Linked DNA regions of Homo sapiens: region 2 is linked to region 1. The links come from fine-mapping of genetic effects on gene expression. Tissue or cell type: whole blood. Region 1 holds a variant in brackets; the other region holds the start of a gene. All regions are shown on one strand. Distances are from middle to middle.

Region 1 (5,709 bases):
GAATAAACAAAATGTGATCTACCCACACAATGGACTGTTACTCAGCCGTCAGAAGGAATGACGTGCTGACACACGCTGCAACATGGATGAACCTTGAAAAAGGGAAGAAGTCAGACATAAGAGGACAAATACTATATGATTCTCTTCATGGGAAATTGTGGAGTAGGCTGGGCACGGTGGCTCACACTTGTAATCCTAGCACTTCGGGAGGCTAAGATGGGCAGATCACCTGAGGTCAGGCATTTGAGACCAGCTGGCCAACATGCTGAGACCCTGTCTCTACTAAAAATAGAAAAATTAGCCAGGCGTGGAGGTGGGCCCCTGTAATCCTAGCTACTCGGGAGGCTGAGGCAGAAGAGTCGCTTGAACCTGGGAGGCAGAGGTTGCAGTGAGCTAAGATCCCGCCATTGCACACCCCCCTGGGCGACAGAGCAAAACTGTCTCAAAAAAAAAAAAAAAAAATTGTGGAACAGGCAAATCCATCGAGACAGAAAGTAGATTAGTGGTTTCCAGACACTGGGGAGACTGAAAGCAAGTGGGTAGTGACTACTAATGGGGAGATAAGAATGTTCTGGAATTATATAGTGACGATAGGTGCACAACTCTGTGAATACACACACACACACACTGCTAAACTGTATAATTGTTTAATTGTAACTTTTAGAGATGAAGTTGTTTGTCTAAGGTTATGTCACATATAGTAAGTAAAGGACCAGAAACTGAATCCAAGAATAGCTGCTCTTAGCACTAATGCTGTTGGGGGAAAATGTTTCCAGGGCCATTGAATAGGAAATTAATAACGTTGGGATCTTGAAGAGCCTCAGAATTGTCATTCTAAGTATTCCTTCTCACTATAAAGTACTGTCATTTTGGGTAGTGCGTAAAAGGGCTGAGAGAAATAATATTGCATTGGTTTTACTGCAAAATTGGTTCTACAAGGAGTCACGCCAGGGGACTGCTTTGTCCATTCAGCGGGGAGATCCGAAGAGCAGATAAAGAGCTGGGGACAGTGGAGCTGAGCCTGGTGTCAGAGATGGTTGAGAAGAAACACCAATGTCACAAACCCACTGCTACAGTAAGACACCTGGGGGTGCTAAAGTCTTTTCTTACCTTATTACCAACACTTGGAAAAGCCTTCACACCTCTCCATTTCTCACCTTCTCTCCAAGTGCTATTTCTTTTTTAAAACTTGAAATCATGTTTATTTGACTGATTTCTAAAATAATACATACTAACTTTAGAAAATTTGGAAAATACATTAAAATATAAAGAAAATTCTTGGCCAGGCATGGTTGCTCATGCCTGTAATCCCAGCACTTTGGGAGACCGAGGTGGGTGGATCACCTGAGATCAGGAGTTTGAGACCAGCCTGGCCAACAAGGTGAAACCCCATCGCTACTAAAAATACAAAAATTAGCCTGGTGTGGTCGTGGGCACCTGTAATCCCCGCTACTCAGGAGGCTGAAGCAGGAGAATCGCTTGAGCCCAGGAGGCGGAGATTGCAGTGGGCTGAGATCGCACCACTGAGATCAAAAAGAAAAAACAAAAAAAGAAAAATTCTCCCCCTGCCCAAAGATTTTTTTTTTTTTTTGCCAGTCTTGCTTTCTGTCTATATGTAAGATAGGTGGACACACACACACACACAGACACTTTATTTTAAACTTATATTTTAGGTTCAGGGGTACATGTGAAGGTTTGTTACATAGCAACATGGTATGGTTAGGCTTTATGTCCCCACCCAAATCTCATCTGGAATTGTAATCCCCACGTGTCTAGCGAGAAGCCAGGTGGAGGTGATTGGATCACGGGGGCAGTTTTCCCCATGCTGTTCTCGTGATAATGAGTGAGTTCTCTCTGATGGTTTTATAAGGGGGCGCTTCTTCCTTTGCTCACCACTCTCTCTCGCCTGCGGCCATGTAAGAAGTGTCTCTTCCGCTTCTGTCATGGTTGTAAATTTTCTGAGGCCTCCCCAGCCCTGCAAAACTGTGAGTCAATTAAACCTCTTTTCTTTATAAAATAGCAAGTCTCGGATATGCCTTTTTTTTTTTTTTTTTTTTGGAGATGGAGTCTCGCTGTCTCTCCCAGTCTGGACTGCAGTGGCACGATCTCAGCTCACTGCAAGCTCCGCCTCCCGGGTTCACGCCATTCTCCTGCCTCAGCCTCCCGAGTAGCTGGGACTACAGGCGCCCGCCACCACGCCCAGCTAATTTTTTGTATTTTTAGTAGAGATGGGGCTTCACCATGTTAGCCAAGATGGTCTCAATCTCCTGACCTTGTGATCCACCTGCCTCGGCCTCCCAAAGTGCTGGGATTACAGGTGTGAGCCACTGTGCCTGGCCCCAGGTATGTCTTTATAGCAGTATGAAAATGAACTGCCAGGCGTGGTGGCTCATGCCTGTAACCTCAGCACTTTGGGAGGCCAAGGTGGGTGGATCACCTGAGGTCGGGAGTTCAAGACCAGCCTGACCAACATGGAGAAACCCTGTCTCTACTAAAAATATAAAATTAGCCGGGCGTGGCAGCACATGTAATCCCAGCTACTTGGGAGGCTGAGGCAGGAGAATCACTTGAACCCGGGAGGCAGAGGTTGCGGTGAGCTGAGATGGCGCCACTGCACTCCAGCCTGGGTGACAAGAGCGAAACTCTGTCTCAAAAAAAGAAAATGAACAAGTAAACTTGTGTCATGGGGGTTTATTTATACAGATTATTTCATCACTCAGGTATTAAGCCTAGTACCCAACAGTTATCTTCTCTGCCTGTTCCTCTCCCTCTTCCCCCCCACCCTCCTGCCCGCCTCCACCCTCCCCCTCCAGTAAACCCCAGTGTCTGTTGTTTCCTTCTTTGTGGTCATC[G/T]GTTCTCATCATCTAGCTCCCACTTATAAGTGAGAACGTGTGGTATTTCGTTTTCTGTTCTTGCGTTAGTTTGCTGAGGATGATGGCCTCCAACTCCATCCGTGTTCCCCCAACAGACATATTTTTTAACTCAATGGGGGATCGTCATAAATATATTTTATAACCTGCTTTTATAAATTAACGTCATACTTGAAGCATTTTACCCTGCCAGTAAACATTCTTTGATAAAATGACTTTGAGCGGCCACTGTTTGTTCATTGCCTTATTTTCAGTCATCGGGGTTGTATAGCAGCCGTGAAAGTGTGCCCCTCAGATTTCCCACTCTGGGAAGTATAATTGACCCAGGGCCCCCAGCTGCTGTGCCCGGAAATCCATCACCCAGCACATGGAGACCCCGCTTCCCGCAGGCTTCTCCCATCTAGAGACAGCATGGCAGGGATGCTGAGGCTGGCTCGTTCCTGGGAGACCCAGGCTTCTCTTAGGATTTTCCCACATTCGTGCTGAAGTCTCCCAGGATGGCACCGTAGGCTGAGACGCTGCCCCCAACCTCCTTTCCTTCCTTCATCCTGTCCTCCAGCAAGAGTCAGACCTGCCTGTGGTGGGACAGCTCCCTGAATCCCCTGCTCCCTCCTCTTTTCCCTCCCAGGCCTGGCTCTGATGAATCTCTTTATTTATTTAGTATTTTTTCAAGACAGAGTCTCACTCTGTCACCCAGGCTGGAGTGCAGTGGCGCCATCTCTGCTCACTGCAACCTCTGCCTCCCAGGTTCAAGCGATTCTCCTGCCTCAGCCTCCCGAGTAGCTGGGATTACAGGTGCCCGCCACCACGCCCGGCTAATTTTTATATTTTTAGTAGAGACGGGGTTTCACCATGTTGGCCAGCCTGGTGTTGAACTCCTGACCTCAGGTGATTCTCCCACTTCCACCTCCCAAAGTGTTGGGATTACAGGCATAAGCCACCACGCCTGGCCTTGATGAATGTCTTGCATGGCAAAGAATCCCATCTTGGTCCCTGCTTCTAGAGGACCTGGACTGACACAGGTCATCTCCACTTCGGTTTGCTTGTTTGGTTTTGGTGTTACCCTCAATGCTATTATGAGCATGTAAGTGTGCATATCCCATCCAAATCTAGGATTATTGCCTTAGGAAATTATGTGAGGCAGGAATTCCAGGAGAGGGTTACTGGGTGGAGACCGAATCCCTGTGTAAGGCTCTGATGCGTGTTTCAGAAGTGGCTGAGTGGGCCTTTCTCACCCTCAGGCTTTCTCACTTGTAAAGCTCTGCTGATGTGAAGGCATAAGAAACCTCCTGTTTATTTGCCTTTCTTGGTTACTTGTGAGGTTGAGCAGTTTCACATTTACTGCCTATTTAATTTCTGGCTTTATATGTAAGCATTTCTTTTTTGTTGTTGTTTTTTGTTTGTTTGTTTGTTTTGTTTTGTTTTGAGATGGAGTCTTGCTCTGTCGTCCAGGCTGGAGTGCAGTGGCGTGATCTCAGCACACTGCAACCTCCACCTCCCAGGTTCAAATGATTCTCATGCCTCAGCCTCCCGAGCAGCTGGGATTACAGGCGTGCACCACCACTCCCGCCCAAGCTTTTCTTTTGTTTTTCTCTCCCTTCTCCTCCTTCTTTTCTCATTTGTCTCTCTTTATCTGATCACCTCTTCTATTTGCTTTGTCTCTTTTTTTTTTTTTTTTTTTTTTTTTTGAGACAGAGTCTCACTCTGTCACCCAGGCTGGAGTGCAATGGTGTGATCTCGGCTCACTGCAGCCTCCACTACCTGGGTTCAAGTGATTCGTTTGCCTCAGCCTCCCAAGTAGCTGGGATTACAGGTACCCGCTGCCATGCCCAGCTAATTTTTGTATTTTTAGTAGAGACGGGGTTTCACCATGTTGGCCAGGATGGTCTTGATCTCCTGACCTCGTGATCCACCCGCCTCGGCCTCCCAAAGTGCTGGGATTACAGGCATGAGCCACTGCGCTCGGCCTTTTTTTAATTTTTGTTTTTTTGAGACAGAGTCCTGCTCAGTCACCCAGGCTGGAGTGTAGTGGCACGATCTCTCCTGACTGCAACCTCCGCCTCCCGGGCTCAAGCCATTCTCCTGCTTCAGCCTCCCAAGTAGCTGGGATTACAGGTGCCTGCCACCATGCCCGGCTAATTTTTGTATTTTTATTAGAGACGGAGTTTCACCATGTTGGCCAGGTTGGTCTTGAACCCCTGACCTTGTGATCCGCCGCCTCGGCCTCCTAAAGTGCTAGGATATTACAGGAGTGAGTCACCATGCCTGACGTTTTTTTTTTTTTTTGAGTCGGGTTTTGCTCAGTCGCCCAGGCTGGAGTGCAATGGCACGATCTCGGCTCACGCAACCTCCACCTCCTGGATTCAAGTGATTCTCCTGCCTCAGCCTCCTGAGTAGCTGGGGTTACAGGTACATACCATCAAGCCTGGCTAATTTTTGTATTTTTAGTAGAGACAGGGTTTCACCATGTTGACCAGGCTGGTCTTGGACTCCTGACCTTGTGATCTGCCCGCCTCGGCCTCCCAAAGTGCTGGGATATTACAGGAGTGAGCCACCGTGCCTGACGTTTTGTTTTTTTGTGTTTTTTTGAGACCGGTTTTGCTCAGTCGCCCAGGCTAGAGTGCAGTGGCATGATCTCGGCTCACTGCAACCTCCACCTCCCGGATTCAAACGATTCTCCCGCCTCAGCCTCCTGAGTAGCTGGGATTACAAGCACCCGCCATCAAGACTGGCTAATTTTTGTATTTTTAGTAGAGACAGGGTTTCACCATGTTGGCCAGGCTGGTCTTGAACTCCTGACAGCAAGTGATCCAACCGCGTTGGCCTTCCAAAGTGCTGG
Region 2 (5,709 bases), 21 kb after region 1:
AAAAAAAAAAAGAGAGAGAGAAAGAAAAGTAACACCAGAAATACATGTTGTCATGGAATAAGATGAAAAGCAGTTTTTCAAGGAGGAAATGGTTGGCATCATCAAAAGCCATGAAGAGGTCAAATAAGATAAAGGCTGAGGAGATTCACTAGATTGGGCAACATGAGGTCACAGAAACTTTGCTGGGAGAGTTTGAATAAATTTTTGGTGTGGCAGTTATATTGTGGTGGTTTGGGAAGTGAGGAAAAAGTGAGCATAGGCCAGGGGCGAGTGGCTCACACCTGTAATCCCAGCACTTTGGGAGGCCAAGGCAGGTGGATCACTTGAGGTCAGGAGTTCGAGACCAGCCTGACCAGCATGGAGAAACCCTGTCTCTACTAAAAATACAAAAACTAGCTGGGCATGGTGGCGGGAGCCTGCAATCCCAGCTACTCAGAAGGCTGAGGCAGGAGAATTGCTTGAACCCAGGAGGCGGAGGTTGCAGTGAGCCAAGATTGCGCCACTGCACTCCAGCCTGGGCAACAGAGCAAAACTCCGTCTCAAAAGAAAAGAAAAAAAGAAAAAGTGAGTATAGACCACTGTGTCAAGAAGCTTGGATGAGAAGGAAGAGAAAAGAGACAGTGTTGGCTGCAGGGGGACTTGGGATGAAGGGTGGAAGGGCTTCCTGGCTGGGCCTCTTCTGTGTATCTTGGGCTCTGTGGTCTGCCCAGACCTGACCTCATTCCTGAGCTCTTACTCCTAACCAATGGCTGATTTGACACAGTAGACGCCCATTGGCATCTGGACCTTAACTTGTTCCAAACAGGATGCTTGATTTCCCCTCTCAGTCTTCTCTTCCTTCACTGCACATTGTCCATCTGTTGCTCCATCAAAATTGCAGGAGCCATATCTGTGATTCATCTCCTTGATTTATTTATATCACTATGGACTCATAGATATTTATTTTATTCTTTGAGAGCCAGGCATGGTGGCTCACGCCTGTGATCTCAGCACTTTGGGAGGCTGAGGTGGGTGGATCACTTGAGGTCAGGAATTCGAGACCAGCCTGGGCAACATGGCGAAACCCCATCTGTACTAAAAATACAAAAAAATTAGCCAGGCATGGTGATGCATGCCTGTAGTCCCAGCCACTCAGGAGGCTGAGGTGGGAGGACCGCTTCAGTTCAGGAGGTCCAGGCTTCAGTGACCTGTGATCACGCTACTGCACAGTAGCCTGGATAACAAAGGGAGACCCTGCCTCAAAAAAAAAAAAGGATATTTTCTTCTTTGAAAGGACATATGGTTGGCTGGGCCCGGTGGCTCATGCATGTAATCCCAGCACTTTGAGAGGCTGAGGTGGGCGGATGACGAGGTCAGGAGATCGAGACCATCCTGACTAACACGGTGAAACCCCGTCTCTACTAAAAATACAAAAAATTAGCCGGGCTTGGTGGCGGGCGCCTGTAGTCCCAGCTACTCAGGAGGCTGAGGCAGGAGAATGGCGTGAACCTGGCAGGCGGAGCTTGCAGTGAGCCGAGATTGCACCACTGCACTCCAGCCTGGACGGCAGAGGGAGACTCCGTCTCAAAAAAAAAAAAAGGAAAAGAAAGGACATATGGTCATCTTTTTGCCTTAACTCCCAGTTTTGGATAAATTTTTTTTTTTTTTTGAGACAGTCTCACTCTGTTGCCCAGGCTGGAGTGCAGTGATGTGATCTCGGCTCACTGCAACCTCCGCCTCCTGGGTTCAAGCAATTCTCCTGCCTCAGCCTCCGAAGTAGCTGGGACTATAGGCATGTGTCACCACGCCTGGCTAATTTTTGTATTTTTAGTAGAGACGGGGTTTCACCATGTTGATCAGGCTGGTCTCGAACTCCTGACCTCAGGTGATCCACCCACCTCAGCCTCCCAAAGTGCTGGGTTTACAGGGGTGAGCCATCGCGCCCAGCCTAATTTTTCTAATAACAGTAAAGTTGTCCCGATATCGTATAGTCAAAAAGAATGAGAGATGTTAATGTGTTCCTCCAAAATTCATTTGTCAGAACCTGATGCCCAGTGTGATAGTATTAAAACGTGGGGCCCTTTGGGAAGTGATTAAGTTTGGGGGCTCCTCAGGAATGGGATCAATGTCCTTATAAAAGAAGCTTCATGGCTGGGCGTGGTGGCTCACGCCTGTAATCCCAACACTTTGGGAGGCTGAGGCCAGTGGATTGCCTGAGCCCAGGAGTTTGAGACCAACCTGGGCAACATGGTGAAACTCCATCTCTACTAAAATACAAAAAATTAGGCTGGGTGCGGTGGCTCACGTATGTAATCCCAGCACTTGGGGAGACCGAGGTGGGTGGATCACCTGAGGTCAGGAGTTCGAGACCAGCCTGGCCAACATGGTGAAACCCCGTCTCTACTAAAAATACACATTAGCGGGGCGTTGTGGCAGGCGGTTGTAATCCCAGCTACTCGGGAGGCTGAGGCAGGAGAATCGGTTGAATCTGGGAGGCGGAGGTTGCAGTGAGCCGAGATCGCGCCATTGCACTCCAGCCTGGACAACAAGAGTGAAACTCGGTCTCAAAAAAAAAAAAAAAAAAAAAAAAGCCGGAAGTGGTCATGCGCGCCTGTAATCCCAGCTACTCGGGAGGCTGAGGCAGGAGAATCGCTTGAACCCGGGACACGGAGATTGCGGTGAGCTGAGATCTCGCCACTGGACTCCAGCCTGGGCGACAGAGCGAGACTCTGTCTCAATAAAATAAAATAAATAAAAAATTTAAAAAATGAGGTCTGGGTGATTAAACAGTTATACAGGTGGACAGTGATAAAATCCCTGACTCCAGGGTTAGAGAGACCACCCTGGAACCCACTGGCTGGTTGGAGTCGAGATGTTTGACCTTGGGCCCTCTTCTCCTTTCTCCATCTGTCAGATGGGTATAGGATGACTTTCCGTGGGGAGTGCTTGACAGGAGCTAAGAAACAGGTCAGCTATGGCGCTTACTGCCTGCGGGAGCTGCCGCACTTAGAACCACCAGCTGTTATCCCATTTTTATAGATGAGGGCAGAAGAGAAAACGCAGGTGGTTGGGGCCAGGCTGTCTGATCCGGATGGGGGACTTTTCCCTCGGGGCAGGTGAGAGCGCCTGGAGAGGCCCCTGCCCCCGCGCACGCGTCCTAGCGGTTGCCGGGCAACGCGGCCCGGGCCATGGAGGCGTCGTACGAGTCCGAGTCCGAGTCCGAGTCTGAGGCCGGGCCTGGGACTCAGCGGCCCGGGACCGGGACCGTGAGCGCGGCCGTGCGCGAGCACTTGCGGAAGCTGTGTCTGCGCGAGTTCCCGTGCGGTGCCGGCAGCTGGGTGCGGGCGCCGGGGCCGGAACTCTGGGGGCCTGGACCGGCTGCGGGGAGGCACGGGCCCGGGCGAGCGGAGCGGGCTGGTCCCTGGGGCCTGGGATCTGCGCATTCTGGGGGCCGCCGACATGGGGGCGGGTGGGGCTTGAGGGTGACGGTGGGGCCCGAGTCGCGGGCACTGCGCGGGGAGGAGAGCGGGGCCCGTCCTGAGCACATCAGCTGACCTGGGCTGGGGCCTCTCCCTGACTTGAAGACGTCAACACCCCAGATTTCTAGTGGGCAGGCTCCTTTTGGGGTGAAAAGCTTTTGTTTTGGGCAAAGAGTTCCACAACTTTTCCCAGCCTCCGAGCATTTAATAAGAGCCTGAGGCAGTGTGAGAGGTGGCTCAGCCTGAAGCCTGCGACCTTGAGTCCAGGAGAAGGGGTTACCCCCCATCCTGCCTCCCTGTCTCCAGAGTCCTAGACCCTTCCCTCCCGTGGCTTCAACCACGAGGGGCGCCCAGGTGTGGCCCAGGAAGGCTTACTGCCCAGGCTGGAGCATAGTGACGCGATGTCGACTTACTGCAACCTCCGCCTCCCAAGTAGCAGGGATTACAGGCACCTGCCACCATGCCCGGCTAATTATTGTATTTTTAGTAGAGACAGGATTTCACCATGTTGCCCAGGCTGGTCTCAAACTCCTGACCTCAAGTGATCCACCTGCCTTTTTAAAAGGAATGGCACCTTTTAATTATTTTGTATCTCACCTCATCTGTAGTTATATCCATGGCTAATAATCCATCAAAATTATTGATTATTCACTGTCTAGATTTTTTTTTTTTTTTTTGAGACGGAGTCTCGCTCTGTCACCCAGCCTGGAGTGCAGTGGCGTGATCTCGGCTCACTGCAACCTCCGCCTCCCGGGTTCAAACGATTCTCCTGCCTTAGCCTCCCGAGTAGCTGAGACTACAGTTGCGTGCCACCACGCCCGGCTAATTTTTTGTATTTTTAGTCGAGACGGGGTTTCACCGTGTTAGCCAGGATGGCCTCGATCTCTTGACCTCATGATCCGCCTGCCTCAGCCTCCCAAAGTGCTGGGATTACAGGCATGAGCCACCGCACCTGGCCTACTCTCTAGATTTCTAAACTCTATCCCTAATCGTCCAGTTTTATGATCTGTTCTGTTTTGAGAGTTTGGTGTCCTTAAGGGGGCTGTGTCACACCTACAGAAAATCCCTCCTCTGCCACTGCAGAATAAGTCGCGCTTTCTTCCTCAAACTTGGCGAACTTGGAGGGAGCTTGTCCCCAGAGAGGAGGATGTGGTGAGCCCCGGAGAGGAGACGGTGGAGGCCCTGCTGGGCCTGGTCCGCAGCCGCCACTCCCCCTGGGCTCTGCTGAACAACTCGAATGCAGAAGACAGTTTCCTGAGAGAATTGGCCATCCGGAACCCGCTGACGATCACAGACACCTTCTTCTACTCCTACTTCCGGTCCCTGCGGGTAATAGACAAGAAGGTCAGTGCTGGGCACGTGGTAGGTGATGTTAGGGTGGCCGCTCCCCTAAGGGAGGTTGTGGGGAGGGCACCCTTCCCCACAGCGCGTCAGGGATCCTGCTTTCAGGGCTGAAACGAAGGCCAGCCTGCCCTCCATCTGCTTCATCTCCCTGGCTTGTGTGCCAGGCAGGGCCGGCTACTCGGTCAGCCTTGCGTTTCTTCTTCCTTTACCCCTGGAAGCCATCATGGCACAGCTTCCACCCCTGAGTTCTGCAGTGGACCCTCCTGGGTCCTAGTAAAGGTTTTTTGAAGGGTCTGTGTTAGTTTTACTTCGTTTAAACCGTGGGGGTCAGGGTAGGGGAAGGTTGGTGTAGTTCTATTTTAATTTGTTACCAAAAAGCATTCTTTGTTTACATCAGTAGCAGAGCCCAGTCTCGGCATGGTGGCTCTCTGGTGCTTGTAATCTCAGCACTTTGGGAGGCTGAGGCAGGAGGATCGTGTGAGTCTAGGTGTTAGAGGCCCAGCCTGGGCAACATAGTGGGATCCCACCTCTGTAACATCTTTAAATTTAGCCAGGTATGGTGGTGCACGCCTGTAGCCCCAGCTACTCAGAGGCTTAGGCAGGAGAATCACTTGAGGTGGGGAGGTAGAGGCTGCAGTGATCATGATCGCACCGCTGCACTCCAGCCTGGGTGACAGAATGAGACCCTGTCTCAATCAATTAAGCAAGCAAGCAAACAAGAGTGAGACTCTGTCTCAATAAATAAATAAAGCCAGCAAGCCAGCCCAAAAATTGCCTGGAAACTTGGTCTCAGCCTTCCCAACCCTTGGCTTTCTTTTTCCAGAGCCACTGGGAAGTGACACGGCACTAGGGGACAAATAGGGTGACTGACTGGTAGCAGTTTGCCAGGGACTTTCAGTTTCAGTGC

Evidence for each region. PIP is the estimated chance that this variant, and not a neighbour inherited with it, causes the effect.
Region 2: LRRC43 starts here. The variant in region 1 is fine-mapped to the expression of LRRC43 in whole blood (TOPMed, PIP 0.98).

What each region holds. Positions count from the first base shown.
Region 1 is chr12:122,159,043-122,164,751 of GRCh38, forward strand. No RefSeq gene overlaps it. Among named protein-coding and RNA genes, the nearest start is that of IL31, 12 kb to the right of the region's middle. The variant G/T (reference allele first, on the strand shown) is at 2,853.
Region 2 is chr12:122,179,978-122,185,686 of GRCh38, forward strand. LRRC43 (leucine rich repeat containing 43) reads left to right here and starts at 3,146. Exons shown (of 12, transcript NM_001098519.2): 1 at 3,146-3,317; 2 at 4,542-4,802. The coding sequence starts at 3,168. RefSeq lists a silencer at 3,174-3,273 and an enhancer at 4,867-4,936.